4 linked regions of the Homo sapiens genome follow. The protein of the gene in region 4 interacts with the protein of the main gene of each other region in a biochemical or structural test. Each region holds a gene or a part of one and is shown on either strand. Other genes may lie near its edges.

The links.
Region 1: the proteins of RNF8 (region 4) and MDC1 form a complex in vitro, tested with the Homo sapiens proteins (2 studies listed by BioGRID and IntAct, with this or other methods).
Region 2: the proteins of RNF8 (region 4) and UBE2V2 form a complex in vitro, tested with the Homo sapiens proteins (2 studies listed by BioGRID).
Region 3: the proteins of RNF8 (region 4) and UBE2E3 form a complex in vitro, tested with the Homo sapiens proteins (one study listed by BioGRID).

The regions. Positions count from the first base shown.
Region 1 is NC_000006.12:30,700,282-30,707,305, forward strand, and holds part of MDC1 (mediator of DNA damage checkpoint protein 1), read right to left. Parts: intron 5,818-7,024; coding exon 3,340-5,817; intron 3,257-3,339; coding exon 3,137-3,256; intron 3,006-3,136; coding exon 2,823-3,005; exon of another isoform or gene 2,786-2,822; intron 2,597-2,785; coding exon 2,471-2,596; intron 2,383-2,470; coding exon 2,272-2,382; intron 352-2,271; coding exon 184-351; 3' UTR 1-183. UniProt on the Homo sapiens protein: Histone reader protein required for checkpoint-mediated cell cycle arrest in response to DNA damage within both the S phase and G2/M phases of the cell cycle.
Region 2 is NC_000008.11:48,011,413-48,018,436, forward strand, and holds part of UBE2V2 (ubiquitin-conjugating enzyme E2 variant 2), read left to right. Parts: intron 1-7,024. UniProt on the Homo sapiens protein: Has no ubiquitin ligase activity on its own. The UBE2V2/UBE2N heterodimer catalyzes the synthesis of non-canonical poly-ubiquitin chains that are linked through 'Lys-63'. This type of poly-ubiquitination does not lead to protein degradation by the proteasome.
Region 3 is NC_000002.12:180,976,203-180,983,626, reverse strand, and holds the start of UBE2E3 (ubiquitin-conjugating enzyme E2 E3), read right to left. Parts: upstream 3,023-7,424; 5' UTR 2,654-3,022; exon of another isoform or gene 2,615-2,653; intron 2,570-2,614; exon of another isoform or gene 2,150-2,569; intron 1,610-2,149; 5' UTR 1,585-1,609; coding exon 1,391-1,584; intron 1-1,390. UniProt on the Homo sapiens protein: Accepts ubiquitin from the E1 complex and catalyzes its covalent attachment to other proteins. In vitro catalyzes 'Lys-11'- and 'Lys-48'-, as well as 'Lys-63'-linked polyubiquitination.
Region 4 is NC_000006.12:37,356,962-37,363,985, reverse strand, and holds part of RNF8 (E3 ubiquitin-protein ligase RNF8), read right to left. Parts: intron 3,541-7,024; coding exon 3,412-3,540; intron 1-3,411. UniProt on the Homo sapiens protein: E3 ubiquitin-protein ligase that plays a key role in DNA damage signaling via 2 distinct roles: by mediating the 'Lys-63'-linked ubiquitination of histones H2A and H2AX and promoting the recruitment of DNA repair proteins at double-strand breaks (DSBs) sites, and by catalyzing 'Lys-48'-linked ubiquitination to remove target proteins from DNA damage sites.

The sequences.
Region 1 (7,024 bases), 6.7 Mb from region 4:
AACAAAAAACAACCTGTGGCTTCCAAATCCCTTATCTTTTCATTTATTCATAAAGATTTCTGGTCCCACCCATGTTCCAGGACAAGTTGTATCAATATACCCCAATCCTTTCTAACGCCCTGAGTTCTTTCTTCCACATATCTTCTAATTCGTGGTCTGGGAGGGAAAAGGGTAGTGGAGTTCTCAGGTGGATGACATCTCCAAAGGGGAGAGGACAAAGGCCTCTGGCTTGGCTTCCTGCTTCAGCACTCCAGTCAGCAGGAACTCAGGCGAGAGGAGGGGCAGCCCAACCCGTAGTGGAATGGAGCAATGAGGGAAGTCCTGAGGGCATGTGATCACAACTCTCTGAGGCTGGGGAAGACAGAGCAAAGGCAAAATCAGGTGAAAAAGAATCCTAGAAATGGGTTCAGGACCCACTAACCAGTCTTACCATCACTAAAATAATACCTCCTAATATGAAGCCAAGTGAAGCACACCGCATACTGTCTATGAAATACTCTTGCTAGGCCGGGCGCAGTGGCTCATGCCTGTAATTACACAGCACTTTGGGAGGCTGAGGCGGGTGGATCACGAGGTCAGGAGATCAAGACCACGGTGAAACCCTGTCTCTACTAAAAATACAAAAAAAAAAAAAAAAAAAAATTAGCCGGGCGCGCTGACGGGTGCCTGTCGTCCCAGCTACTCGGGAGGCTGGGGCAGGAGAATGGCGTGAAAACCCAGGAGGCGGAGCTTGCAGTGAGCCGAGATCGCGCCACTGCACTCCAGCCTGGGCTACAGAGCAAGACTCCATCTCAAAAGAAAAAAAAAAAGAAAAAAAAAAAAGAAATACTCTTGCTAGAGGCCAGGCACAGTGGCTCACGCCTATAATCCCAGCACTTTGGGAGGCCGAGGTGGGTGGATCACGAGGTCAAGAGATCGAGACCATCCTGGCCAACATGGTGAAACCCCGTCTTTAGTAAAAATAAAAAAATTAGCTGGGCGTGGTGGTGTGCGCCTGTAGTCCCAGCTACTCGGGAGGTTGAGGCAGGAGAACAGCTTGAACCCGGGAGATGGAGGTTGCAGTGAGCCAAGACTGCTCCACTGTACTCCAGCCTGGCGACAGAGTGAGACTCTCTCAAAAAAAAAAAATACTTTTGCTAGAAAGATGAACCTGAATTTATTCAAGCTTTTACAATTATCTGCAATTTCCAGGAAATATGGAGTACAGAGGAACAAGATAAATTATATGACAAGGAGGCAAACCCAAAATTCCAGACTGAGGAACATTCTAAAGGACAAGTGACCCAGCTTCTGCAGGAAATAGATGGCATAAAAAAAGCTGGGTGGGTTAAGGGATGCTCTAGAGTAAAGATAATTAAGAAGATAATAGGTGTGGCAGTATGTGGACCTTATTTGAATCCTGATTTGAACAACTGTATAGAGACATTTTTCAGACAATGGGAGAAATTTTATTAATGGAGTGTGAGCAAATGACCAATAAACTACTGTTAATTTTGCTTAGGATCAATAATGGCATTGTGATTATGAAATAAAATGTACGTATTTCTTAGAGATATATATTTAAGTATGTAGGAAGAAATAATATAATATTGGCAGTTTGCTTTAAAATATTTCAGCAAAGAAAGAGAAAGGAAAAAAAGAAAGAATAAAGAAAAATAAAAAGAAATGAAATACTTCAGCAAAGAAAATCAAAGGAAAAAGCCGGGCGCGGTGGCTCACGCCTGTAATCCCAGCACTTTGAGAGGCCGAGGCGGGCAGATCATGACCTCAGGAGATCAAGACCATCCTGGCTAACACAGTGAAACCCCATCTCTACTAAAAATACAAAAGAATTAGCCGGGCGTGGTGGCGGGCACCTGTAGTCCCAGCTACTCGGGAGGCTGAGGCAGGAGAATGGTGTGAACCCAGGAGGCGGAGATTGTAGTGAGCCGAGATTGTGCCACTGCACTCCAGCCTGAGAGTGAGACTCCATCTCAAAAAAAAAAAAAAAAAAAAAAAAAGAAAATCAAAGGAAAAAAGGGATAGATGGAGCAAATGTAGCATAATCTAAATTAAGCTGCTGCTGAATCTCGGTGATTGTTATATGGGGGTATCAGCAGATCTGTCCCCTCATTCCTATCCCTTTCTATACCATAGGTCTTTTCCCCCACCCTCTCACTACTTTATATTCCTTTCTGAACCTCCATTTTTTTCCCTCCAATCTTTGCCATTCCAGCCACCTCTTTAACTGCCACTGCCACCTCACCCAGACCCAGAACATCCTAAGCATACCTTATAGGACCGAGGCATGCTGGGTAGGTATGTGCCTCCACAGCAGCTAATAATCTCTCCCATCTGAGGTGGTGGTGGCTGGACTCCAGGGGTCACATAGATCTCATAGCCCTAAGAGAAAGAAATGATGGAGATGGTATTGTAGATTGGGAAGCACTGGAGGGAGGGCTGAAGCACAGGTTAAAAGATAGCCTCTCACCTCTAGCAGCCTTCGCTCCCGAGCCCTGCTCAGTGCGTCTTGAAGGCTAAAGCCAAAGTTCTTCTCTTGCTCAGGGTCGGTCACCACATATTCATCCGGGGGTAAGAAGAAACCAGCCTTGCGGGACTAAGGACGGCAGCAGTCAGCATCAAAGCTCAGCCCAGCCCCTCAATCAGCTCTGCTGCCTAGCATTTAGAGAGAGCTCACAAAATGTCTTTTAAATCAATGCAGGCTTCTGGCTCACCAATGCCCCTGTCTTCCTGTAACGCCTCTTCCCTTCCACCACTTTCTAGGGCACTATATGAGCAGTCTTGCCACTATATCGGTCTGTCATCATCCCTTGGCCTCTCACCTGATGCAGCCAGTCCAGGGACAGAATGGGGATTCCCCGCCCCAGGGCACACAGGAACTTGACTGTCCGGCGGATGCGATCAGTGACCAGGTGGGAAGCCTCTGCCGCTGAACCAGCCAGACTTCCCCCCAGTGCCAGCACAGCCCGCTCTCCCCGAGCATCCACCACTCCTGTGAAGAGCACCTGTGGAAGGGTTGACCTGAGGTGGTTACGGCAACCCATGCCATCAGCACCCATCTCTACAATCCTCTAGGTCTCCTTGCATCCTCCCCTCATCTCTGTCTCCCACAAAGTCCCATGCCTTTGTCTCTTACTTTGGGGGCTGTTGATTCTTGGTTAAGTTTGGTCCGTCGGAGGCTGCGGCTTGGTATTCTGTTGGGCTCCTCCTCTGCCTGGTCTCTCTTTCTCTTGCCTGGTTTTGGAGTCACGACATCCTGAGATTGAGAAAAATCTTGGTGGGAGTTTCAGAGCCCTGAAGTCATTTTTCCCAGCTTTGTGGTCCCAACCCTCTCCTCACCTCTTCCTTCCCTGGCTTCTCTGCAGTATCTTCTTCCTCTTCCTTGATAATCACTGTCTTCTGGGAGACTTCCCCTCTTTGGGGCTGTTTTTGATGTGGTGGTGAATCCATGGTAGCTAAAGACCTCTTGCGGCTTTGAGAGGCCTTAGGCTGGAGCTCCGGGGTGAACCTAGATCTACCTGCTGGTTCCACCTTTTGGATCTGGGAGGCATGAATTGGTGTCTCAAGAAGCTGGGGAGAGGCAGGCTCAGGAATGGCTGTAAGGGATTCAGCTGCTCTCACTGCTCCCCATCTTTGGTTCCTTGAGGCCTGGGATTTAGGTTCCAAGGGTGCAGAGCAAGGCTTATGGTCAATGGGAGCTGCGAGGGAGCCAGGGTTCCCAGCGGCTCTCTGCCTCTTGATGCAACTGGGTTGAGTAATAGGCTCAGGGGAAATAGGCTGGTCTGTGGTGACAGGAGATTGGAATTCAGGGGTGGTAGGAACCGGCATAGCTCTTACTGTGGAAGACCTCAGTGTTTTGCTCTGACCACCCTGAGCTATGGCCTCAGGGGTGACGGACTGGTCTGTGGGGGTAAAAGGCTCAAGATCAGAGGCTGCTGGTTCAACTGGTTTGGGAGTCTTGACAGAGGACCTATTTGTCTTTCTCCTAGTGGCCCTAGATGTGAGCTTGGGGGTGACAGGCTGGTCTGTGGAGGTGGTAGGATGGGGCTCAGGGGCTGTGGGGACAACTGGCTCAGGGGTCTTGACAGAGGACCTATTTGTCCTGCACCTAGTGGCCCGAGATGTGGGCTCAGGGGTGACAAGCTGGTTTCTGGAGGTGGAAGGCTGAAGCTCAGGGGCTATAGGGACAATTGATTCAGGGGTCTTGACAGAGGACCTATTTGTCCTGCCCCTAGTGGCCCGAGATGTGGGCTCAGGGGTGACAGGTTGGTCTGTGGAGGTGGAAGGCTGGAGCTCAGGGGCTGCGGGCACAACTGTTTCAGGGGTCTTGACAGAGGACCGATTTTTTCTTCCCCTAGTGGTCCGAGATGTGGGCTCAGAGGTGACAGGCTGGTCTGTGGAGGCGGAAGCCTGTAGCTCAGGGGCTGTGGGGACAACTGTTTCAGGAGTCTTGACAGAGGATCTATCTGTTCTTCCCCTAGTAGCCTGAGACGTAGGCTCAGGGGTAACAGGCTGGTCTGTGGAGGTGGAAGGCTGGAGCTCAGGGGCTGTGGGGACAACTGTTTCAGGGGTCTTCACAGAGGACCTATTTGTCCTGCCCCTGGTGGCCTGAGATGTGGGCTCAGGAGTGACAGGTTGGTCTGTGGAAGTGGAAGGCTCGAGCTTAGGGGCTGTGGGGACAAGTGTTTCAGGGGTCTTGCCAGAGGATCTATTTTTTCTTCCCCTAGTAGCCCGAGATGTGGGCTCAGGGGTGACAGGCTGCTCTGTGGAGGTGGAAGGTGGGAGCTCAGGGGCTATAGGGACAGTTGATTCAGGGTTCTTCACAGAGGACATATTTGTCCTGCTCCTAGTGGTCCGAGATGTGGGCTTAGGGGTGACAGGTTGGTCTGTGGAGGTGGAAATCTGGAGCTCAGGGGCTGTGGGGACAACTGTTTCAGGGGTCTTGACAGAGGACATATTTGTCCTGCTCCTAGTGGTCCGAGATGTGGGCTTGGGGGTGACAGGTCGGTCTGTGGAGGTGGAAGGCCGGAGCTCAGGGGCTGTGGGCACAACTGGTTCAGGGGTCTTGACAGAGGATCTATTTTTTCTTCCCCTAGTAGCCTGATATGTGGGCTCAGAAGTGACAGGCTGGTCTGTGGAGGTGGAAGGCTGGAGCTCAGGGGCTGTGGGGACAACTGGTTCAGGGGTCTTGACAGAGGATCTATTTTTTCTTCCCCTAGTAGCCTGAGAGGTGGGTTCAGAGGTGACAGGTCGGTCGGTGGAGGTGGAAGGCTGGAGCTCAAGGGCTGTGGGCACAACTGTTTCAGGGGTCTTGACAGAGGATCTACTTTTTCTTCCCCTAGTAACCTGAGATGTGGGCTCAGAGGTGACAGGCTGGTCTGTGGAGGTGGAAGGCTGGAGCTCAGGGGCTGTGGGGACAACTGGTTCAGGGGTCTTGACAGAGGACCTATTTGTCCTGCTCCTAGTGGCCTGAGATGTGGGCTTGGGAGTGACTGGCTGGGCTGTGGAGGTGGAAGGGTGGGGCTCAGGGGCAGCAGAGGTAGCTGGAAAGGGTGTCATTCTGGAGGACTTCCGAGTTCTAATTTTAGGCTTTGGGTGGAAAGGCTCCAGCTCTGAGGACAAGGGAGCCTCTGGAGCTTCCTGACTCCCATCTTGCCTGGTCTTACGAACGGTTGGCTTGATAGAAGGTAAAAGGGGAGAAAGAAGGGGCGGAGGTGCAAGATGTTTCTGGCTCTGAGAGTTAAGGGGCTTTTGGGGTGGGGCTGGGGCTTCAGGTACTGTAGGAGGCAGACAAGCATCTGGAGATTCCTGATCGCCCTAGGGAGAAACAGAAGCAAGTGAGGGGGAGGAGGTGGAGAAAAGAGATAGAACTTGGATACTGTTCTTGATACTTGTTTATGGTTAGATAGGCTTACCAGATTTCCACCGGGCGTGGTGGCTCACGGCTATAATCCCAGCACTTTGGGAGGCCGAGGCGGGCGGATCACGAGGTCAGGAGTTCAAGACCAGCCTGGCCAACATAGTGAAACCCCGTCTCTACTAAAAATACAAAAAAAAAGGCCAGGCATGGTGGCTGATGCCTGTAATCCCAGCACTTTGGGAGGCCGAGGCGGGTGGATCACAAGGTCAGGAAACCGAGACCATCCTGGCTAACACGGTGAAACCCCGTCTCTACTAAAAAATACAAAAAATTAGCCGGGCGTGGTGGCGGGCGCCTGTAGTCCCAGCTACTTGGAAGGCTGAGGCAGGAGAATGGCGTGAACTCGGGAGGCGGAGCTTGCAGTGAGCCGAGATGGTGCCACTGCACTCCAGCCTGGGGGACAGAGCAAGACTCTGTCTAAAAAAAAAAAAAAAAAAAAAAAAAATTAGCTAGGTGTGTTGGCAGGCGCCTAGTAGTCCCAGCTACCTGGGAGGCTGAGGGAGGAGAGTCGCTTGAACCCGGGAGGCAGAGGTTGCAGTGAGCCAAGATCGCGCCACTGCACTCCAGCCTGGGTGACAGAGTGAGACTGTCTCAAAAAAAACAAAAAAATACACAAAAATTAGCCGGGTGACATGCGCCTGTAGTCCCAGCTACTTGGGAGGCTGCGGCAGGAAAATTGTTTGAACCCAAGAGACGGAGGTTACAGTAAGCTGAGATCACGCCACTGCACACTCCAGCCTGGGTGACAGAGACAGACTCTGTCTCAAAAAAGAACAAAAACAAAAAATATGCTCACTGGATTTTCCTTTCTGTCTATGATCTCTCCTCCATTAGACTGGGATCTACCTGGGAAGCTACCTTTTTCCCACAGACCTGTCTCCATAATGCTACTATAGTGTTCTCCACACGTGGATGATGGTAAGGAAAAGGATGGCTGGGGCAAAGAAAGAAGAAACACGAAGGGTCTTTCTTTTGAGTCAGGTAGGAGATACAACTTAGGAAACAGATATGGAAAACAACGGGTGCCGAGGATAAAGGAATAGAAGCCAATCAAGGCGTGACAAAAATGGAAGAAAACTGAATAATGAGAAAGGAATAGATTAA
Region 2 (7,024 bases), on a different chromosome or scaffold from region 4:
GGTAATCCATCTGCTCCGGCCTCCCAAAGTTCTGGGATTACAGGCATAAACCACTGAGCTTGGTCTAATACACGTGTTTTTTATTTAAGCCAAAGTATCTCGATAACAGTTGTTTAAGAGGCCAAAAAGAAAAACCCTGACAAATATGTTTTGATCTTTAGTTCAGTGTGCATCATATACCTTAGCCCCTTTAACCCTTCCTTCTACTGGAAGAGAATTTTGGAAGGAAAAAACTTTTAATTAGACTGAGACTTTTTGAGACGGAGTCTTGCTGTGTTGCCCAGGTTGGAATGCAGTGGCATGCGATCATGGCTCACTGCAGCCTCGACCTGCTGGGGTCAGGTGATCCTCCTACCTCAGCCTCCCGAGTAGCTGCGAACACAGGCACGCATTGCCACACCTGGCTAATTTTTAAATTATTTGTAGAGACAGGGTCTCCGTATGTTATCCAGTGTAGTCTGAACTCCTGGACTCAAGTGACCCTCCTGCCCTGGCCTGAGGTTAGGATTACAGGTTTGAGCCACTGTGCCTGGCCAGACGGAGACTTCTAAGCAGAAACATTTTTGGCCATCCCATCTGGTCTTCTTATTTTGCAGATGAGAAAACTGAGGCTCAAACAAGTAAAAGGCTATACATAGGTGGTTACTAGTACAGGCAAGACTAGAATCCAGGTCTTTTACCCTTAGTCTGATGCGCTCTCCATTATGAAGAACTCTGAATTTGGAATATTTCTCAGAACATGAATCTTAATTACTCCCTTTCACACTTCCCTTCTTAGCACAATCCTTGTTTCAGACTCTTAGATCCTTCTTATGGATGAAAGGGGAACGTAGCCCTCACCAGCTAGGTTCTCCTTTTCCAAGAGACAGAGTTACCCATGCAATTCAAGAGTATTTCACAGGACAGAGGTTAAGAAGCTACTCTCGGGAATAGAAATTTGATACTGTTTAGTACTCATGATTCAAAATTTTATTAGATTCCAGCATTAATAATAACAATTAGTTTAGATAGAAAAGTATGTGCAGGCCGGGTGGGGTGGCTCACACCTGTAATCCCAGCACTTTGGGAGGCCGAGGTGGGCGGATTACCTGAGGTCGGGAGGTTGAGACCAGCTGGACCAACATGGAGAAACCATGTCTCTACTAAAAATACAAAATTATCCGGGCGTGGTGGCACATGCCTGTAATTCCAGCTACTCGGAAGGCTGAGGCAGGAGAATCTCTTGAACCCGGGAGGCAGAGGTTGTGGTGAGCCGAGAGCACGCCATTGCATTCCAGCCTGGGTAAGAAGAGTGAGACTCCATCTCAGAAAAAAAAAGAAAAAAAGCGTGTGCAATAGTTTTAAAAAAATACAATAGTTTTAGTTTTACAGAAAAGTTGTGAAGATAGTACAGAAAGTTTCCATGCACCTCACATTCAGTTTTCCCTGTCAATTTCCTTTTTTTTTCTTTCGGGATGGAGTCTTGCTCTGTCGCCCAGGCTAGAGAGCAGTGGCGTGATCTGGGCTCACTGCAACCTCTGCCTCCTGGGTTCAAGTGATTCTCCTGCCTCAGCCTCCCGAGTAGCTGGGATTACAGGTGTGTGCTGTCACACCCGGATAATTTTTTGTATTTTTAGTAGAGACAGGGTTTCACCATGTTGGCCAGGCTGGTTTCAAACTCCTGGCCTCATGATCCGCCCGCCTTGGCCTCCCAAAGTGCTGGGATCACTGGTGTGAGCCACTGCATCTGGCTTCGCTGTTAATTTCTTATATTGGTATGGTACACTTGTCACAATTAAGGAACCAATATTGACACATTTATTATTAACTAAAGTTCAGATTTCCTTAGTTTTTCTTTAATGTACTTTTGCTGTCCTAGGACTTCATCCAGGATACCACATTACATTGTAACGTGAAACTTTTTTTTTTTTTTTGAGATGAAGTCTCGCTCTGTGGCCCAGGCTGGAGTGCAGTGGCGTGATCTTGGCTCACTGCAAGCACTGCCTCCTGGGTTCATGCCATTCTGTGGCCTCAGCCTCCGAAGTAGCTGGGACTATAGGCGCCTGCCACCATGCCCGGTTAATTTTTTTTGTATTTTTAGTAGAAGTGGGGTTTCACCGTGTTAGCCGGGATGGTCTCGATCTCCTGACCTCGTGATCCATCCGCCTCGGCCTCCCAAAGTGCTGGGATTACAGGCGTGAGCCACCGCGCCCGGCCCACATGAAACGTTTTACATTTATCACTTAGGTAATATTAATGGTACAGTGAAGCTCTAGTCTCTGACTGTAGATGCCTGGAAAATGTCTTTGAGTTATGAGAAACTCAGAAAAAATTGATGAAAGAATATGTTTTCTGCTATGTAGGCAGAAAACAAAACCAAAATATAACCTACTAATTGCCTTCTTCAGAAGTGGGTAGCATTGTATATACTGGAAGAACTAGTTTAGCAGTGTTCTGAGTTCCCTGCTGCCCCTGACAGACTACTGTGCCACCATGGGCATGTCAGTTAATCACTAAACATTGCTTTTCCCATCCCATCTGTGAAAAGATTGGACAACATCATCTTGTTTTCCTCTTTAGATGAAGATACTTGGATATGGACAGAACTCGGGTGTGGTGATAGAAGAGAATTACATAGTTTAAATCATAACCTAGAACTTGGGAACTAAACGATAGAAGAGCTGAACTATGGTAGTCTAGTGTATTTCCCTCTTGAGGCTTCCATAACTGGCCTGGTTGATTTTTCTAGGTCATTTGGGAGCCTGAATTCTCTTGATAAACATGCTTTTGATAATATGGTACAACCTCACTGTACAGGCAGTCCTTTGAACGGCAGTTGGCAGAGGTAAAAATGGCCATGCAAAAAACTACCCAAAGCAGTCTTAATAATTGGGAAAATTATGGTTATTCTGAGACCTTCAAAAATGTCAACACATTAAGAACTCTCCCTGTTTAGAAATATGCAGGAAAGGGCCGGGCATGGTGGCTCACGCCTGTAATCCCAGCACTTTGGGAGGCTGAGGGGGGCGGATCACGAGGTCAGGAGATGGGAGACCATCCTGGCTAACACAGTGAAACCCTATCTCTACTAAAAATACAAAAAATTAGCCGAGTGTGGTGATGGGCGCCTGTAGTCCCAGCTACTCGGGAGGCTGAGGCAGGAGAATGGTGTGAACCTGGGAGTCGAAGCTTGCAGTGAGCTGAGATTGCTCCACTGCACTCCAGTCTGGGCAACAGAGAGAGACTCTGCCTCAAAAAAAAAAAAAAAAAAAATGTGCAGGAAAATGAAACCAGTAAAATTAATATTTAGTATGTCATAATTTAAAGTATCAGATATTAAGAATTAAAATGTTTTATTTCATTAAAAAAAGCTTGTTGGCTGGGCGTGGTGGCTCACGCCCGTAATCCTAGCACTTTGGGAGGCCGAGGTGGGTGGTTCACGAAGTCAAGAGATCAAGACCATCCTGGCTAACATGGTGAAACCCCGTCTCTACCAAAAATACAAAAAACTAGCCGGGCGTGGTGACAGGCACCTGTAGTCCTGGCTACTGGGGAGACTGAAGCAGTAGAATGGCATGAACCCGGGAGGCGGAGCTTGCAGTGAGCTGAGATTGTGCCACTGCACTCCAGCCCGAGTGACAGAGCGAGACTCCATCTCCAAAAAAAAAAAAAAAAAAAAATAAGGCTTGTCAAGAGTAGCTTGAGGCTGGGTGCAGTGGCTTCCACCTGTAGTCCCAGCACTTTGGGAGGTCGAGGTGGGTGGATTACTAGAGCCTAGGAGTTCAAGACCAGCCTGGGCAATACAAGAAAATCCCATCTCTACAAAAAATGCAAAAATTAGCTGGGTGTGGTGATGTGCACCTGCAGTCCCAGCTACTTGGGAGGCTGAGGTAGAGTATGGGTTGAGCCTGGGAGGTTGAGGCTGCAGTGAGCTGTGATCGTGTCACTGCACTCCTGCCTGGGCGACAGAGCAAGACACTGTGTCAAAAAAAAAATTAATTTGAACAATGCTTGCTAATGTTTTGAAGTACATTATCTGTACATTGTGGAATGGTTAAATCTAGCTAATTACCAAATACATTATCTCACATAGTTATCATTTTTGTGGTGAGAATACTTAATAGCTACTGAGTATTTTTCAAGAATACAGTATGTTGTTAACTAATCACCATGCTATACAGTAGTGCTCTTAAACTTGTTCCTCCTGACTGTAATTACGTATCCTTTGTCTAACATCTTCCCAATCCCCACCCCCGTAACCCCAACCATCCTAACCTCTGGTAACCACCATCTCCTGTCTACTTCTGTGAGATCAATTTTGACTCCATATATGAGTGAGATAATATGTATTTGTCTTTCTGTGCCTGTGTTATTTCAGTTAACATAATGTTCTCCAGGTTCATCCATGTTGTTGGAAATGAGAGAATTTCCTTCTTTTTTATGATTGGAACAGTGTCCCACTGTATACGTATACCACATGTTCTTTATCCATTTGTCTGTGTGGTTTTTTTTTTTTTTTTTTTTGAGACGGAGTCTCACTCTGTCACCCAGGCTGGAGTGCAGTGGCGCGTTCTCAGCTCACTGCAACCTCCACCTCCTGGGTTCAAGCAATTCTCCTGCCTCAGGCTCCCTAGTAGCTGGGATTACTGGCACCCGCCGCCAAGCCCGGCTAATTTTTGTATTTTAGTAGAGATGGGGTTTCACCATATTGGCCAGGTTGGTCTCAAACTCCTGACCTCAAGCAATCCATCTGCCTCGGCCTCCCAAAGTATGGGGATTACAGGCGTGAGCCACCGCGCTCAGCCTATCCATTTGTTGGTTGATGGATACTTAGGTTGATTCTATATCTTGCATATTTTGAGTAGTGCTGCAATAAAATGGGAGTGCAGGCCTCTCTTTGACATACTGATTTTATTTTCTTTGGCTATATATGCAGTAGCAGGATTACTGGATCATACGGTAGCTCTGTTTTTAGGTTTTTGAGGAACTCCATACTCTTCTTTCTCCATATGGTTGTACTAATTCACATTCCCACCAACAGCATGCTTAGATTATCCTTTATCACCACATACTCACCAACACTTGTTATCTGTCATCTTTTTTTTTTTGAGACGGAGTTTGGCTCTTGTTGCCCAGGCTGGAGTGCAATGGCATGATCTCGGCTCATTGCAACCTCCACCTCCTGGGTTCAAGCAATTCTCCTGCCTCAGCCTCCCGAGTAGCTGGGATTACAGCCACGCACCACCATGCCTGGCTAATTTTGTATTTTTATTAGAGACGGGGTTTCTCCATGTTGGTGAGGCTGCTCTCGAACTCCCAACCTCAGGTGATCTTCCCACCTTGGCCTCCCAAGGTACTGGGATTACAGGCGTGAGCCGCCGTGCCCAGCCTTTTTTTTTTTTTTTTTTTAATTGAGACAGAGTCTCGCTCTGTCGCCTAGGCTGGAGTGCAGTGGCGAGATGTCAGTTGACTGCAACCTCCACCTCCAGGTTCAAGCGATTCTCCTGTCTTAGCCTCCCGAGTAGCTGGGATTACAGGCACCCGCCACCATGCCTGGCTAATTTTCATATTGTTAGTAGAGACATGATTTCACCATGTTGGCCAGGCTAGGCTGGTCTCAAACGCCCGACCTCAGGTGATCCACCTGCCTTGGCCTCCCAAAGTGCTGGGATTACAGGCGTGAGCCACTGCGCTTGGCCTCATCTTTCATCCTTTTGATTATAGCCATTTTAATGGGAGTGAGGTGATACCTCATGTGGGTTTTTTTTTGCATTTCTTTGATGATTAGTGATGTTGAGAATTTTTTTCATATACCTCTTGGCCATTTGTATGTCTTTTGAGAAATGTCTATTCAGATCTTTTACCCATTTTTACATGAGGTTATTTTCTTGGTATTGAATGGAGTTCCTTATATATTTTGGTTATTAACCCCTTATCAGATATATAGTTTACGAGTATAGTGAACCATTCTGTATGTTCTCTCTCTCTTTTTTTTTTTTTTGGTGGAGTTTCGCTCTTGTTGCCCAGGCTGGAGTGCAATGGCACGATCTCAGCTCACTGCAAGCTCTGCCTCCTGGGTTCAAGGGATTCTCCTGCTTCAGCCTCCTAAGTAGCTGGGATTACAGGCATGTGCCACCATGCACTGCTAATTTTGTATTTTTAGTAGAGACGGGATTTCTCCATGTTGGTCAGGCTGGTAATAAACTCCCGACCTCAGGTGGTCTGCCTGCCTCAGCCTCCCAAAGTGCTAGGATTACAGGCGAGAGCCACCGCGCCTGCCAGTTCTCTCTTTATTGTTTCCTTTGCAGTGCAGGAGATTTTTAGTTTTATGTGATCCAAATTGTCTGTTTTTGCTTTTGTTGAGTGTGCTTTTGAGGTCATATCCTCCAAAAATCATTGCCCAGACCAATGCCATTGACTTTTCTTCCTGTTTTCTAGTAGTTTCATAGATTGCCTTTTTTTTTTTTTTTTTCCTGAGACAGTCTCAACCTGTCACCCAGGCTGGAGTGCAGTGGCATAGTCACGGCTCGCTGCAGCCTCAACTTCCCAGGCTCTCACCTCAGCCTCCCGAGTAGCTGGGACTACAGGTGCACGCCACCATACCTGGCTAATGTTTTGTATTTTTAGTAGAGATGGGGTTTCGCCATGTTGGCCAGGCTGGTCTCGAACTCCTGACCTCAGGTGATCCACACGCCTCGGCCTCCCAAAGTGCTGGGATTACAGGTGTGAGCCACCATGCCCAGCTGCACAATGCCCAATTTTGCCACTTCTGTTCAACATAATACTGGAAGTCCTAGAAAGAGCAATAAGACAAGAGAAAGAAATACAAGGCATCTTAATTGGAAAAGAAGTTAAACTGTTCCTGTTTGCAGAAGACATATGATGTCAGTGTTTATTGTTATAAAAACTTCTGTCTTAAAACTGCTTTTGCTGTATTCCATAGGCTTTGTATGCTGTGTGTTTCAGTTTTCATTTTTTTCAATAAACTTCCTAATTTGTTTTTTAATATCTTCATTGACCTATTGGTTGTTCAAGAGCATGTGTT
Region 3 (7,424 bases), on a different chromosome or scaffold from region 4:
TACTGCAAGAGCACATTAACAGTTCTGACAATATTTTATCTGTCAAAAAAAAAGTTTAAAATTTACAAATATCTTTACTTGTGAAAAACTTTCAAAGACTACTTGACATTCTAATTTAACCATTTCTGTTTTCCCTGATTTTAGGTACAGCACTTAAATTTAATAAACATTGAGAGAAAGAGGAGAAAATACATAGGCCTGAGTTAAGGGGGAGAAAAGCAGTTCTCTGATTTGATTCAAATTTAAGATGATTTCAAAACTTTAGATGTGTCTAATATGTTCCGCATCAACACTATACCAAATTGAGAATTTTAAATTATGTCAAAGACTGCTGCCATTCAAAAATATTATCAAGTTATTAATACTTCATTACTGAGACAATAAGGGTGAAAATCCATAGAAAAATATGAGTATTTATGAATCACCACAGAATGCAATATTTGATCAGTTTTTATATTCTTTTTCCTTTAGTTATCAATAAAAATTAACAAAATGTCAAAATTGGTTAATGCTGTAAACATTATACATTTTATGTATAATTACTAGAGTTTGTGGATATTCCACTACTACTACCACTGATAAGAGTCTCATTGACAGAATCTTTTTTTCTCCATCAGAAAACATCAATCAATAGGAAACAAATGATCTTTCACTTACATCCAATTAAATATGTTTCTCCTGCTGTTGAGTATTAACTTGTCAAGCACATCCACAAGTTTCAGAGTGAAGAGGCCCAAGGACAATGCAAGTTTTCTATCACTAGTGACACCTCAAATTGTAAAGGGCTACTTTTCAGTTTGATTTGCCCTCACAAGCACAGGAAGGGATAATCATAATTTAACCAGGAAAGTTACCTGTGATATACGATTGAAAGTCATGTTTTGTAAAACTGTAAGCAGATTTGCAGCACAATTTTAAATCTGCTTTCAAATATAGCAAAGGCCTGAATTTGCAAATTTTCTAGCAAATATGATCATTTCTGATCATTAAGTTTCATGAAGAGAGGCACTGCTAATCTCTGGAAGTGTCAATTTCATTAAAGAAGATTATGACTCATAAAAGGAACATCCCCAAAGTACCATCTAATTTGGGTTCACCAAATTTTCCTTGCCAACTCCTTAAACAATCTGTCAGAATGTTAGTCTAATCTCTACTCAAGGACACTCTTAACTGAAGTTACCGAAGTACAGAATTAAGTTTGCTTAAAAGTATAATTCTAGTAATGTTGCTTACATACCACCTAAAGAATGACAACTCATTCAAGTACAATTAAACTGATAATGAAGTAAATATTTCTGAACTACTGCTATTGAGGTAAAACCAACAAAAGCGTCCAACCACCTGGAAGACAACCTGACAAAGTGTGCTGGATCCTTCTTTTACACATTACCTTTTAGCACTAGTGGATAACTTAGCAGTGGTTTTGCTAGAGAGTTTGGTGTTTTTCTTCTGCTGGGTGGCAGAAGGTTTTCTTTCCTCTTGTTCTTCAGGCTCTGGAGCGGCTGGGTCTCGCTGGTCCGCATCTGAACTGCCACTGCTGGTGCTGGGGCTCTCATCATCGGACCTTTGCCTATCACTGGACATCTTGGTGAAGTTATCTCTTGGAAAACTTTTAAAGAGAACAGGGGAGGAGGAGGAGAAAATGTTAAATCTAGGAAATAAACCAACAGCATTTTCTTCTAGTCATCTAAAATCGTCTTGTAATGAAAAAGCTTCAAAAGTGTTCACACTTATTTCATCGTACAACAGGGGTACGTACAAGGGAGGTGATGTGTCACACAACGCCAGCGTTAAGGGATTTGCCGAACTCAAGTTAGAAAACCCACTCACATTTTTTTCCGTCTCTTGGACAATCTATCAATTGTCTACTTTCTCAGAAGGCATGAAACAGATTTGCCAAGGAACTTAGGCAACAAGCATTAATAACATATGACACACTGTAAATAACAGATCTCGCTGAAAAATGTTTAAAAGTCACTAATAACGTCTAAATATTTACACACTGACATTGGTCAAAGCTACCAAATTCCCTTTCCGAGAGGAAAACACACCCTGTTAATCGCCCATATGCTTATTTAAGGTGGCGATTCCTCCTCAGTGCACGTAAAGCCTTTAAACACAACACTTGGAAATTTAAAAATCAACTAACGAGCTGCTCTAGCTGTTTCCACGGCCAGCAGCGAAGATTCATCCGGCCAAGACCGAGCTGCCACCCTGGGAAAAGCAGAATTCAAACTGCACCTTCTGCAAAGCTCCCAATGCCACCAAGGTTCCTCGCTCAATTTTTATATCACGGACCGACATTTTGTCCAAAATAACGAAAAAAATAAGAAACCCAGAGAAAAAACAAACAAATAAACAAAGCCCCAAGAAGTGCAACAAATTTCCGCGCCCGCGGAGGCGAGCCACGGCCGGCGGCGGCGGCCACGCAGCTCCGCGGCCCTTTGTGGGGAGGGCCGCGCGGGGGCCGCGGGTAGCGCTCGCCGCGCCGGGCGCCAAGTGATGCGAGCAGCCCAGCCGGCCCCGCCGCGGCTCGCGGACACCGGCGACGCGGGCGCCCGGCGCGAACAAAGCTGCCCGCCCCCGCCCCCTCCCCCACCGCCGCCGCCGCCCCGGCCGCCCCCCACGCGGCCCCCCGGCCCCGCCGCCTTACCTCGGCCGCCCGCCCGGCCCGCTCGCGCGCCGCTACGGTGTGGGGGAGGGAGAGAGAAAAAAACCCTTCCTTAAGGAAATGGAGGCAGCTGTGGGGGGGGGAAGGGGGGGGAGGGAAAAAAAGAAGCCGAGGAGGCTCTGGCCGGGGAGTGTGGAACATTGAAAGTCGGAGGGGGTTGTGCAGTGCCGGGCTCCGGCCGGAGGGTGGCGCCGCCCAGCGCCTTCGGAAAAAAGCGGGGGTGGGAGCTCGGCTGGGCGAGGGCGCGAGCTCCCGGCGAGGCGGAGGGGACGCGGGAGACCCCCGCGCGCTGTAGCCTCCCGCCGCCGCCGCCCGGCTCGGCTCCTCCCGGCCGCGCAGTCAGCAAGTTCCGAGGCGAGCGCGGGGGGGAGGGGCGGGCGCGGCGGCGACGCGCGTGCTCGCTGCTTGCCTGGCGGAGGGGCGCGCGCCGCCGACGCCCGGCGGGCGCGAGCTGTTCCCGCGCGCTCCCGTGCGCGCTCTCCACACCTCCCCTCACCCTGGGGGTGCACGCGTCCGCCCGCGCGCGGCCAGGACAAAGAGCGCGGCGGGGACCCGGCGGGCTGGCCCCTGCCGCCCTTGGCCGCGGAGCCTGTGCCAGAGAAGGCGGGGGCGCGGGCACCGTATCGCGGGGCCGCTGTGCCGCGGGGTGGCTTCCGGCCTGGGCCCGCCTCCGGGGCGAGGCTGCCCATTGGGCTACCCGCGTCCCCAGGGCTGGTTCCATCCCATCCGCCTGCGCGGGGGCCGTCGTGGCTCCCGGGGCCCCAGTACCTGGGCAAGGGCCCTGGGCGCGTGGTTGGGAGTCCCCCGCCGCCCCGGGAGACGGGAGACTAATGGGTGTTGTTGACGAGGCCAGGCACGCAGGCGGAGAAGAGCTGCCACTTGCCCCTCGCGTAAGCTGGAGGAAGGGACAAGTTGGGGTCCTGGGAATTGAAGAGGGTAGAATGTATTTGGAGATTAGGGGAACAACCTCTATTTCTTTTTGGCTCATAGCTTGCAACTGTCGCTGCCAAAGGGAAGTGTCCTTCGGATTATTTGAAACCTTAAAAATCCAAAACAGTGTTTAAAATGTCCCGCTCAACATTCTTAAAAGTGAAGGAGAAGAGTTTGGGGTTGGGGGGTGGCGATGAGAGCTAAAACATGACACTTTTCTGCGGGACTCTTCTGTCTTGCACATGAGGAGCCAGTTCTGGAAAGAAAAGTTCTGAGTGATGTTGAGTCAGAATGTCCACCCAGAAAAGCTTTAGGTGGAGATAGTGACAGTTTTGTTTGTTCTACCATTCTTTTTGCAGTCTCCAGGTGGACTCTGCGGTTTTTACCCCACGGCACAAAGTAGCCAGAATACAAAAACTTCCTGTTTGCCACCCAGGCCTTCTCCAGCTACTGAGAACTTGTTCCGGTGATGGAGCCTCAAAGGAATTTGTGGATTCCTCTCCCACAAGTGTCCAGGGGCAGGGGTGCTGTGAGAATGTGCAGTTCACAAAGGGAGTGAGAATGGCAGTCAAAAGATGTATAGAGTTAAGGGAAAGAAGAAAAGACTGAGTGAGCCAACGTATTTGCTTACTATTTCTCCTAATAGAAAACTTTTGGTAAAGGCTTGATAGCAACTCTAAAGAGTAAGTTACATTTCCATAATTTTCCAAAGACACAGTCATTCAGTTAACTTTATTGAGGGCTATATGTTGCTAGGTGCTGGACATACACTCATTCAATTGCTGTGTGACTAAAGCCAGGTCTCTACTCTGTGCTAAGAGCTCCTAGTCCAGAAGGGGAACAGTTCATTAAAGTTCGCTAGGTTCATAAGTAGTAAGGATATTCCACTCAGAATGAACAGATAGAATATCTCATGCCTCAAAAAAGATCATGGTCTGTGTGTGGACAAGCATTTTGATTTGGCTGGGTCAAAGAGTGCTTGTGGGAAAAGCTTGTTAGTGAAAATAAAAGCAGAATTTTCCCCCAGCTTTACACGATGTGATGTTACAGCAAAAGCCAGCCAATTTGGAGTTGAAGCTTTGCTTTGTTTGGAATGGGGAGACAGAAAAGGAAAGCTGTACGTTAAACATGGGTTCTTTTAGGAAATTTAAGAACAGAAATAGCCTGAAGGCCCAAAGGCCAATTGCTGATAGGATTTAGTGGGGTAAGGAGCTTAGGGGAGAAAGATATTTAGTTGTTTGGTAACATCTTCTACAGAAGAAATAGTATTGGGTTGAAAAGCCAGGGAAGTGTATTCTAATCCTCATTCTACGAAGTTCATATGACCTCAGGCAAGTTAAGTTATTTCAATTACTTTTATGTAAAAGGAGATTGTATCAAAGGTTCTAAGTCCTCTCCTGCTCAAAAATTCCATGATTCCGTGATTCTTTGGCGAACTTGAAGTCATGGAGTTTAACTTAACATTCACCCAACAGAATATTTAGGATCTACTAACTGCTTGGGAAACTGGAGTGAAACATGGGTCATGCTCTTAACCAAGCTCAATTGTGCAGTGGGGCAGCCAGAAACGTAGCCTGCAGAATGAGAAGTGCTGTATTAAAGAAGTAAAGAGAATGAGAAAAGAGCATTACTAATCATCAATTAACTAATAATGGAACTATTAATTCAGGTTGGAATTGTGGGGCATGAGGTAAAGGTCAAAGAAGGAAACATTAGATTGGTCCTGGAGAGAGCACTAGGGCCAGTGATAATGTAGATAATATAGATAATGCTCTTGGCAAAATACCTGGAATTTGGGTGTTCAACAAATAATACCTATTGTTAAAGTCACCGTAAAGATAATGAATGGCTCCATAAGGTTAGGGGCAGTAGTGCCCTGCCCCTACAATGTGAGGTGCCTGGCTGCCTTCATTCAGCTGACTCAAGGGGTTGCTCAAATGATTTCAGCTCACAGCTCCTCTCCCAGGTGACTTGGCATCACCTCCACCAGAAGTAACTTGTAAGGTGTAAATTGTTTCTAATGTTTAGTTCTTCCTTGTGTGACAACCTGTTTTGTAATTATTTTTTCTCTCTTGTTTTTGCTATGTCAATCCTTGAAATTAAGGATCATGTTTCACAGGCACTCTTGGAAGCATACAAATTTGACCTAATGCAATTATTTCATAAAATATAAAAAGGGCCCTTTTCCCATAAGGTCCCTCAGAATAGTTCCACAAGCAGACACCAGCTACCACAAAGAAGATTGTTTCCTCTCAGTCTCTTTTATTTTCTCTTGTTGGTGTGGGGTCCTGCCAGCCTCTCACAACCCTGAGAAGGGCAGTGGTAAGAGGGAAGATGCCGAATCCAATTGCAGTATTACAATGATTATCTCTTATCCCCTTATCCACCAAATGTTGTGACAAAAAGAGGCCTGCCTAAGGGCAAATAAGGCAGACCCCAGAATCCTTTGCACCTCCCTAGTTTGGGAGATGCTTTTTCCTGCGCCTTTCAATGAGTCTCAGTGTTATCTGTGTACATAACTGTGAGTATGTATAACTAAGAATTTCACAGGATCTATCACTGAGTTACCTAAGAAGTTTCTGAATTGAATGATTATGTAAGCTGGGGTATAGACCTCTACTTATCCACCATGACCAGCAGCATCCCTCACATGTAAAAAATGTAGAATAAATATGAATTTATTTTGTTGATTTTAAGGTACTTTGTTTCCTTCCAGTCAATAACTTTTCTAAGAGTCCCTTCATTTTTACTGGCTGTTTCTGATGCTTTCCAGTTACTTGTATCCTCAGTTCTCTGGCTAAGAAATTTTCTTTCTCTACCCATAAAGACTGGATTGGTTTACTAGGAAGGTATTTCTTGGCTCAGCCTTAGTTTACACAGCCTTGTTTGTCATTGTTAGTCCCAGTGTCTTTGGACCCCCAGAATCCAATGTGCCGCTTGACATCTGGGTGCACTTCCACTGCATCCTGAGGGGAAAACCTGCTGTGTCCTACACCAAGGGCTGGGCCCTGGAGTTGGAAAGGTGCATAAGCCTTGGTTTGACGTCAGATAACTCAGTGATTATTTTCTGTATTTCTCTTTTGAGATAACTCTCAGGGAAGGTATATACCAAAAAAGGCTCATGTCATGGTAAGGAGCCTGTACACATGAAACAAAACCGTGAGCACCTTAGTATGTCAAAAGGCAAAAATTTTTAAAGAAATATTTAACATTATAACAAAAATGTAGTCTTGCTAGTTATCCAGAAAGGAAAGTTGAAATGAAATATCTATCAAAATAACAAAAACAATTTTTAGTTATTATAATAATTCCTGGCAAATTGTTTTTTAAAAAATCCCTTTGTCCATTTCTAGTAGGAATGAAAATTGGTACATGTTTCGAAAAGGAATTTGGAAATTTTTTTCAGGAGCCTTAAATGTGGCCATACCCTTTGACCAGATTTCTCCATTTCAAAAGAAATGTACTTCAAGGAAACATTCTAAAAGTGAGAAAAATGATACTGAAAAACTGGAAATGTCCAACAATATGCAAATGATTACACATACTGATTCACCCACATAATTAAATTTGCCATTATTAAAATAACAGTTGTGAAAAGCAAGCTAAAATACAAAAACAGATTATTATAAAATACACTTAAGGTAGAAGTTTGTCTATTTTAGTTACTGGGAAATCAGAGCCTGCCTCAATACCTCTCAAGGTACCGAGCACAAAGTAAATCATCTATAAATATTTGTTGAATGAATATGCATCATATTTTTACAATAAGCAAAACAAAAATGTCTGAAAACAAAAGGTTGACCAGTACCTAGATTTTAGAGTG
Region 4 (7,024 bases):
GGATGGTCTCGATCTCCTGACCTCGTGATCCGCCCGCCTCGGCCTCCCAAAGTGCTGGGATTACAGGCGTGAGCCACAGCGCCCAGCCTTCTTTCACTCAATATTATGTGAGGTTTATCCATGTTATTAGATATAGTAGTTCATTCATATTCACTATAGTATAGTGTTTCAATATAAGATTATTCCACAATTTATCCATTCTACTGTTGATGGACATTTGGGCTGTTTCCCGGGGAGTGAAAATACTGTGTCAAGAGCTATATGTATGTTCAACTTTAATGAATAATGCCAAATAATTTCCCAAATTGTACCAATTTACACTCCCAACAGAAGGGTAAGAACATTCTATCACTCCATATCCTTACCAATACCTGGCATCACTAGTCTTCAATTTTAGCCACTCTGGTGAATGTGTAGAGGTATTCCATTATGGTTTTAATTTAAATTCCCCAGATTATTAATGAGGTTGAACAACTTTTCATTGGATAGAACCTTTTGTGAAGTGCTTGTCTCTTGCTCATTTTTAAATAGGGCATATCTGTCTTTTTCTTATTGGAGTTCTGCAGATACCTCAGTATAAACCCTTCATTGACTATAATGTGTAGCAAACATCTTCCTCTGAGTTTGCCTTTTACTCTCTTAATGGTGTTTTTTGACGAATGAACGCTTTTATTGTACTACCATCAGTATTTTTAAAAAGTGCCCCAGGTGAGAGTAAAAACTGGAAACAGGGTTGATAACCACTGCTCTAGTTGCTGGAGGACCAGAAGCTGAACTGTCCCAAACAGCAAACTTTGTTCACGTAAGAGTACACTCAACAGGGACTTCAAATGCCAGAGTCTGCAGAAGAACAAAGGTAGGAATCACCAGGCAGCAGGTGAAAAGCAACAGGAGAGGAGGGTAAGAATGGGAAAGGCTCAAGTAAGACGTGACTGAACCTCTAAGGCATTTCATACTGTGACTTTAAAACAACCAATTTTCTGAAAGAGCTGGATACCAATACAAAGGACGGGCCATCTGAAAAGCTTATGAATTGACCAAAACCTACACAACTAGAACCATCCTCATACTGTGTGCAGACTTAGCTGTCCTCCAAGGTTTTTTTCTATATTTTAAGCCAATTTTAAACCAAAATAACATTTCTTGCAATTTTTGTATCTATACTTAAGCTCTCACTTTCTGGCCATTCCAGCAGATAAGAGAATGCAGCTCTGAGTTTTTAACTTGTTAGAAACACCTATCTCTTGAAAAAGATTTGGCAAATGACTTCAAACACAACCACAGCAATAATACCCTACAGCTGAAATTCAGGTCTCTTATCAGCAGAAGAGGGCTGCCATGGCATCATGCCAGGAGGAAGCCAGAAAGGGGGCATCTGTAGTCAAAAGAAAAGTGCAGGGGGCAGGGGGGATTTACTTGTAAGAATTGTTCCATCAAAACACCCCAGTCCTAGCTTCTCTTAAAATTAAATCAGTTATCTCACAAACAATCACAGCTAAAAAGTTTAAACAGGTTGTTAAGAAACCTATCTTTCCTCTCTATTGCCTGACTGAGACCTGAGAAGAATCATATGATAACAGCAACCCTAGAAGGAAGGGTACAAAGCAAACACTGGAGAGTGAGCCCGGAGCACAGTCATGATCTGATCTTGCACAGGCTGCCTCTGTATCCCTGTGGTTGAAATTCAAATAACACTGAAGTTGATCAGCTGTTGGCTTCCCAACCTATGAAAATCTGCTAATCCCATAAGTGGATCACATCTACACTGCACATAATTAAGAAAAGCAGCAGCAGAGAACTCACCTCTATAATATTGTAATCCTAACTCTCATACAGCCTACTCTGATGAGGAAAACATCTTTTCCTAAGCTGTTTTGATATACGCTATTACAGAGGCTTTAAAACCTTGCAGCTATATTTTAAATATGCATAATTAATTGTTTGACGTCATAAAGCCAGTATAGCAAATTGCTTACATACTTTACTGATACTTGACACAGGGCATAGCAGAGAAACTTAAGTCCTGGCTCATTATAGAGAAGGCTTTGGGCAAGACAGTTTATCTCTCTGGGCCTCAGATTCATCTGTCTACATAAGGGGTTAAAGTAGATAATCTCAGTGCCAATTTTTATCCTGCTCATGGTGCCTTGCTAAAAGTGCTGAACTGATTTACTTAGCATTTATGTACTGTCTCCTTCAATACAGTGCCAACTCAACTTAATTCTAGAGCAGGAAGATACTTTCCAACAGCTTAAATCTAGCAGTTTTATGCACGCAATATGAGGATGGCAGGCAGACCTGTGGGATACCCTCCCTTCTAATGGTACCTTTAAAATCCTAACTGGGGCAGTGAAGCAATATGAAATGGCACTTAAAGACATGTTATACTTCCTAAACATTAACTGTTTATGTTAGAATTTCTCTCACCTCATAGTCTGTATTTTCATCACATTCCTCGGTGCTTGTATATCTGCACTTTAGGTATCTTCTTTTCTTTTTGATAGCGACAGGGCTTCACTATGTCAGCCACACTGGAGTGCAGTGGCTATTCACAGGTGCAATCCCTTTGTTGATGAGCACAGCAGTTTTGACCTGCCCTCCTTCCAACCTGGGTCAGTTCACCTCTCCTTAGACAAACTGGTGGTCCCCTGCTCCCAGGAGGACACCATATTGATGCCGAACTTAAGGCAGACACCAGAATGGCATAGCACACTATAACCCAGAATTCATGGGCTCAAACAATCCTCTGGCCTCAGCTTCTCCAGTAGTTGGGACTACAGGCATGTGCCACCACACCCAGCACATTAGGTACTTTCTAATTGCTGGGCTTCATATACTATTGCACCTCCCTCAATATATTTACCACTAAACTAGTGGTTTTCAAATTTGTTTAAAGGAGAAAAACCCATTATTCAAAGGAAATCTTCGGAACACCAATATTTAAAACATGTTTTAAAGGCCAGGGGAGGTTGCTCAGATTGAAAGGAGTGAGGAAGGAAAGGAGCTAAGCGCAATCAGATCAGTTTCTCCCTCCTCCCCTTGTCCACTGAGCCATAAGTGTACTCCAGAAGCGTCAGCAGATTCTGCAGATTCCCAGGGTCTCTGGGAGCTTCACCTCAAACAGGCTTATTTGCCCAGTAACTTAGTCTAGTTTCTGGAATAGGACCTACTACCCCAATTCAGGTATTCTCTTCAAGTTAACAAACTTTAACCCAAATCAAGAGAAATTATTTTAGCATAATCGAATCTCTGGCAGCATATGGAAGTGGCTGCCTCTGGAAAAGGGAACTGGATGGCTAGGAAAGAAGAAGTTATACTTTTGAATTTTATACCATGAATTACCTATGCAAAAAAAAAAAAAAGTAATTTAAAAACAAATAAAAGTCATTAGGCTTCTGTGAATTCCTGTACCTTGTTGTCCATAATTGTCCATTGGCCCTCAGGATTCTGCTTCAAAACACAGTGGTTTCGAGAAATCATCAGGGGGCAGATTTTTGATACCAGTTGGTATGTGACACCAAATCCTCGTCCTACAGTCACCTGGGAGACAACAACAATGCAAGAAATACCATCAGTCATTGTGCTGAAAAGGGAGGTCCTTTACAAATCTCATCAACCAGCAGCATATGCAGGTCCTGACTTAAGAAACCAGACACCTGTGGAACCAAAACAGTGCATCAGCTATCTCCTCTTCAGCTGTCTTGAGAACCACCAAGTAGAAAAAGGCAAACGGTTGTGACAACAAGAGAAAGCTGAAAAAGAGTTATCCATGTATCTCAGGGTTGCCAAGATCTTGAAAGGTCATCTGGTTCAATGACTATGAGATAGAGGAATTCTTTCTACACATCCCATCAACGCATAAATACTGTCAGTAACTTTACATAAGGCAGGCCCTCCAATTTTTAAAATGTCTCTGACTTGGCATTTTTCTCCTTGTAAATTCCATCCATTGGCCCTGGCTTTGCCCTGGGCACCATCGGGAAATCTCCAATCCCCTTTCAATGGCACAGATATAAAGTGAACACTGAGTTTTCTCTTTTCCTGGTTCTGTATTCCCAGTTACTTCAACTTAACTCCCAGGGGATGGGCTTGAGCCTTTGCCATTCTAATGAGTCTGTGAAGGGACTGCTGGTTTATCTTTATTCCTGGATGGCATATTAAGAAAAATAAACTTAATTTCTATTACACAGTCAAACGCAAGTGTTACTTTCCCAGTTCTAGATATTATCACTGGAGCATATAAATTGCATTAGCTTTCATAGCAGATCTAGTACACTGCCAGTGTATCCTCGAACTTAGGAATGATTAAATTTCTTGGTCTCCCCCTCCTCCAAGAAATGCTATCCTAAGTCCTGTCTCTTCTGCTCTATACTTGACTGGATGGAAAACCTTGGATTCAAGCGCAGGACCTTAGATTGATTCCTATTAAATTTCATCTTGCTAGTTCAGCCTATCAAACCAATTTGTCAAGACCTTTCTGAATTTTTAATCTGCCATCAGATCAGACATACTTAATATCTCTTCCACCAAATTTATGAGATGATGCCTTCTATACCTTCGTTCAAGACACAGAATGGGATGCAGCCAAAGGCAAAGTTTTCAGGAAAACCTAGTAAACATTAACCCACACCATCTGGATATACCTTCAGCCAGTTATAATTCAACCAAAAGTCTTTGCATTGGAGTACATATTCTCTGTCTTATCCACAAGAACAGCTTGAGAGCTTCCGGAAAAGGTTGAAAAGAAGCCCCAGTTCACATCTATCATACTTTCCTGTTGGACCAGTCTAGTTCATAACAACCCTGTGAAGGAAGGAAATGAAATTCTTCTGAGTTCCAGATCACAGAATTCCCTTATTCTTTTTTGTTTGTTAATTTTTTTTTGTTTTTTTGAGAGAGTCTTGCTTTATCACCCAGGCTGGAGTGCAGTGGCACGATCTTAGCTCACTGCAACCTCTGCCTCCCGGGTTCAAGCAATTCTCCTGCCTCAGCTTCCACGTAGCTGGGATTACAGGCACGCACCACCACACCCAACTAATTTTTGTATTTTTAGTAGAGACGGGGTTTCACCATGTTGGTCAGGCTGGTCTCGAACTCCTGATCTCAAGTGATCTGCCTGCCTCAGCCTCCCACAGTGCTGGGATTACAGGTGTGAGCCACCGCGCCCGGCTCCCTGCATATTCTTCTTAGTGCACAAACGACCTCTTTAATGTCCCATATCACAACCTTAACTGGGAACTTTAAACCAAAGTTAGCTAAAACTGCCCTCTTCTCTTCTCTTTAAAATCTTTCAGAATGCCTGTCCTCCTCAGTCCCTCAAAGACCACCACGACTCACTGACCTAATCTATTCCTCCCCACAAACTCTTATCTCAGTATTCACAATACTATCCAACCAACTACTCAACCCATAACCCAGAAGCCATCTTTGATTCATCTCTGTCCCTCATCCCCACATTGAAATCACTGGTAAATTATATGGGCTATAATTCAAATATGTCCTAAGTCTGTTCATTCCTATCTCTGCAGCCACAGCCTTAGTCCAAACCACCTGGCCTCCTACTGTTTCTGTTCTCACTCTAGCCCCCATAAGCTTTATAATAGTAACTGGAATAGAAATGTAAAAATTTTAAATCAGGTCATTTTCCTTCTTTCCTTAAAACTGTCCAATCATTCAAACTTCCTTCCATGGCCTATAAGACCCTGAATGTCCTGAGCCCTTCTACTCTTTAGTCTTAACTCATACCATAGTGCCAACACTAGCTGCTCCAGCCCCTCAAACTTTTTTGTTGTTGTTGTTCCTTAAGCCCATCTCCCCGAAGTGCCAGCCTACCTGAGGGTCTTTTCACTTAGCCCCTCTGCTAAGAACACTCTTCTCTCAGATCTTGCACAGGCTCCTTATCTTTCATGTTCCAGCTACTCATAAGCCTACTCTGATTACCTCTGTCTAAAGTTGGTTGTCTGCTTCCCATCATATTTCTTCAGTTATTAGGAAGTACTTATCACAGACCAAAATTATCTTGTTTATTTTACTTTTCCCCTCTGTCCCCGTAATAGAATATAAATTAGATAAGCAGGGACTTTATCTGTCTTGTTTACCACTGTGTTTCTATACCTGGCATAGTGTTCAGTTAAGTATTTGAGAATGAATGAAAGAATAAAGAGGTCTTGCATATGAGTCCTCAAGATTTTAGGGTGGGTGTTTTTAGGTCAGAAGTTAGAGACTGTATTACCATTGGAAAATATGGAGCAGCAGTTGGAACTCATACAGTCTCACTTGTTTCTCTTTAAAATGTTGTGGTGATCACTCCACCAACACTGAGCACAAAGTTTTTCAGTTCTTTCACACTCTGCCAGAATTATATTAATTATAGAAGTTCCTCTGAATACACATATCTGTTAAAAATGGAATGGCTAGGGATTTATCTGTCGTCCATATTCAGTAAAATTTCTATTTAGGTAGCTTTATCTCTAAGAGAGGAAGCATCTCATATTACATGCTAATACTTGAGGGGAGACAGCCAGACTGCCATTGTGAGTAGCCAGGGGAAAACAGTACCAAAACAGTAGAAGAGTGCCTTTTCCTGACATTGCCTCCAACAGACTCTGAACCCAGAAAAAGGAATCATTCTTTTACATCCTTCCCTGCACTGCCTGGTCTTAGAATTTACCTTGGTACTACTGATATTTCACCTATACTGTAGTTAAAGAGTGCAGTGAGGTTACCTGGAAATCTCAGGACCACTCAACATAACACTGAATTTCCCGTGGGAACTGACTGACGACCCATATGTGAGGGGTTGTTTTCATTTACAATAGTTTTGCAAGCCTTTGAGCTTACACACATTATTGATCTAAAAGATCATCCTGTCTTTGCCCACCTTCACTAAGACTATCTCTTTCCTCCTGGGCACAATTCCTACTGTTTCTCAAATAACAAGTAAATCTGGCCAGGTGTGGTGGCTCACACCTGTAATTCCAGCACTTTGGGAAGCCCAGGCGGGCGGATCACATGAGGCCAGGAG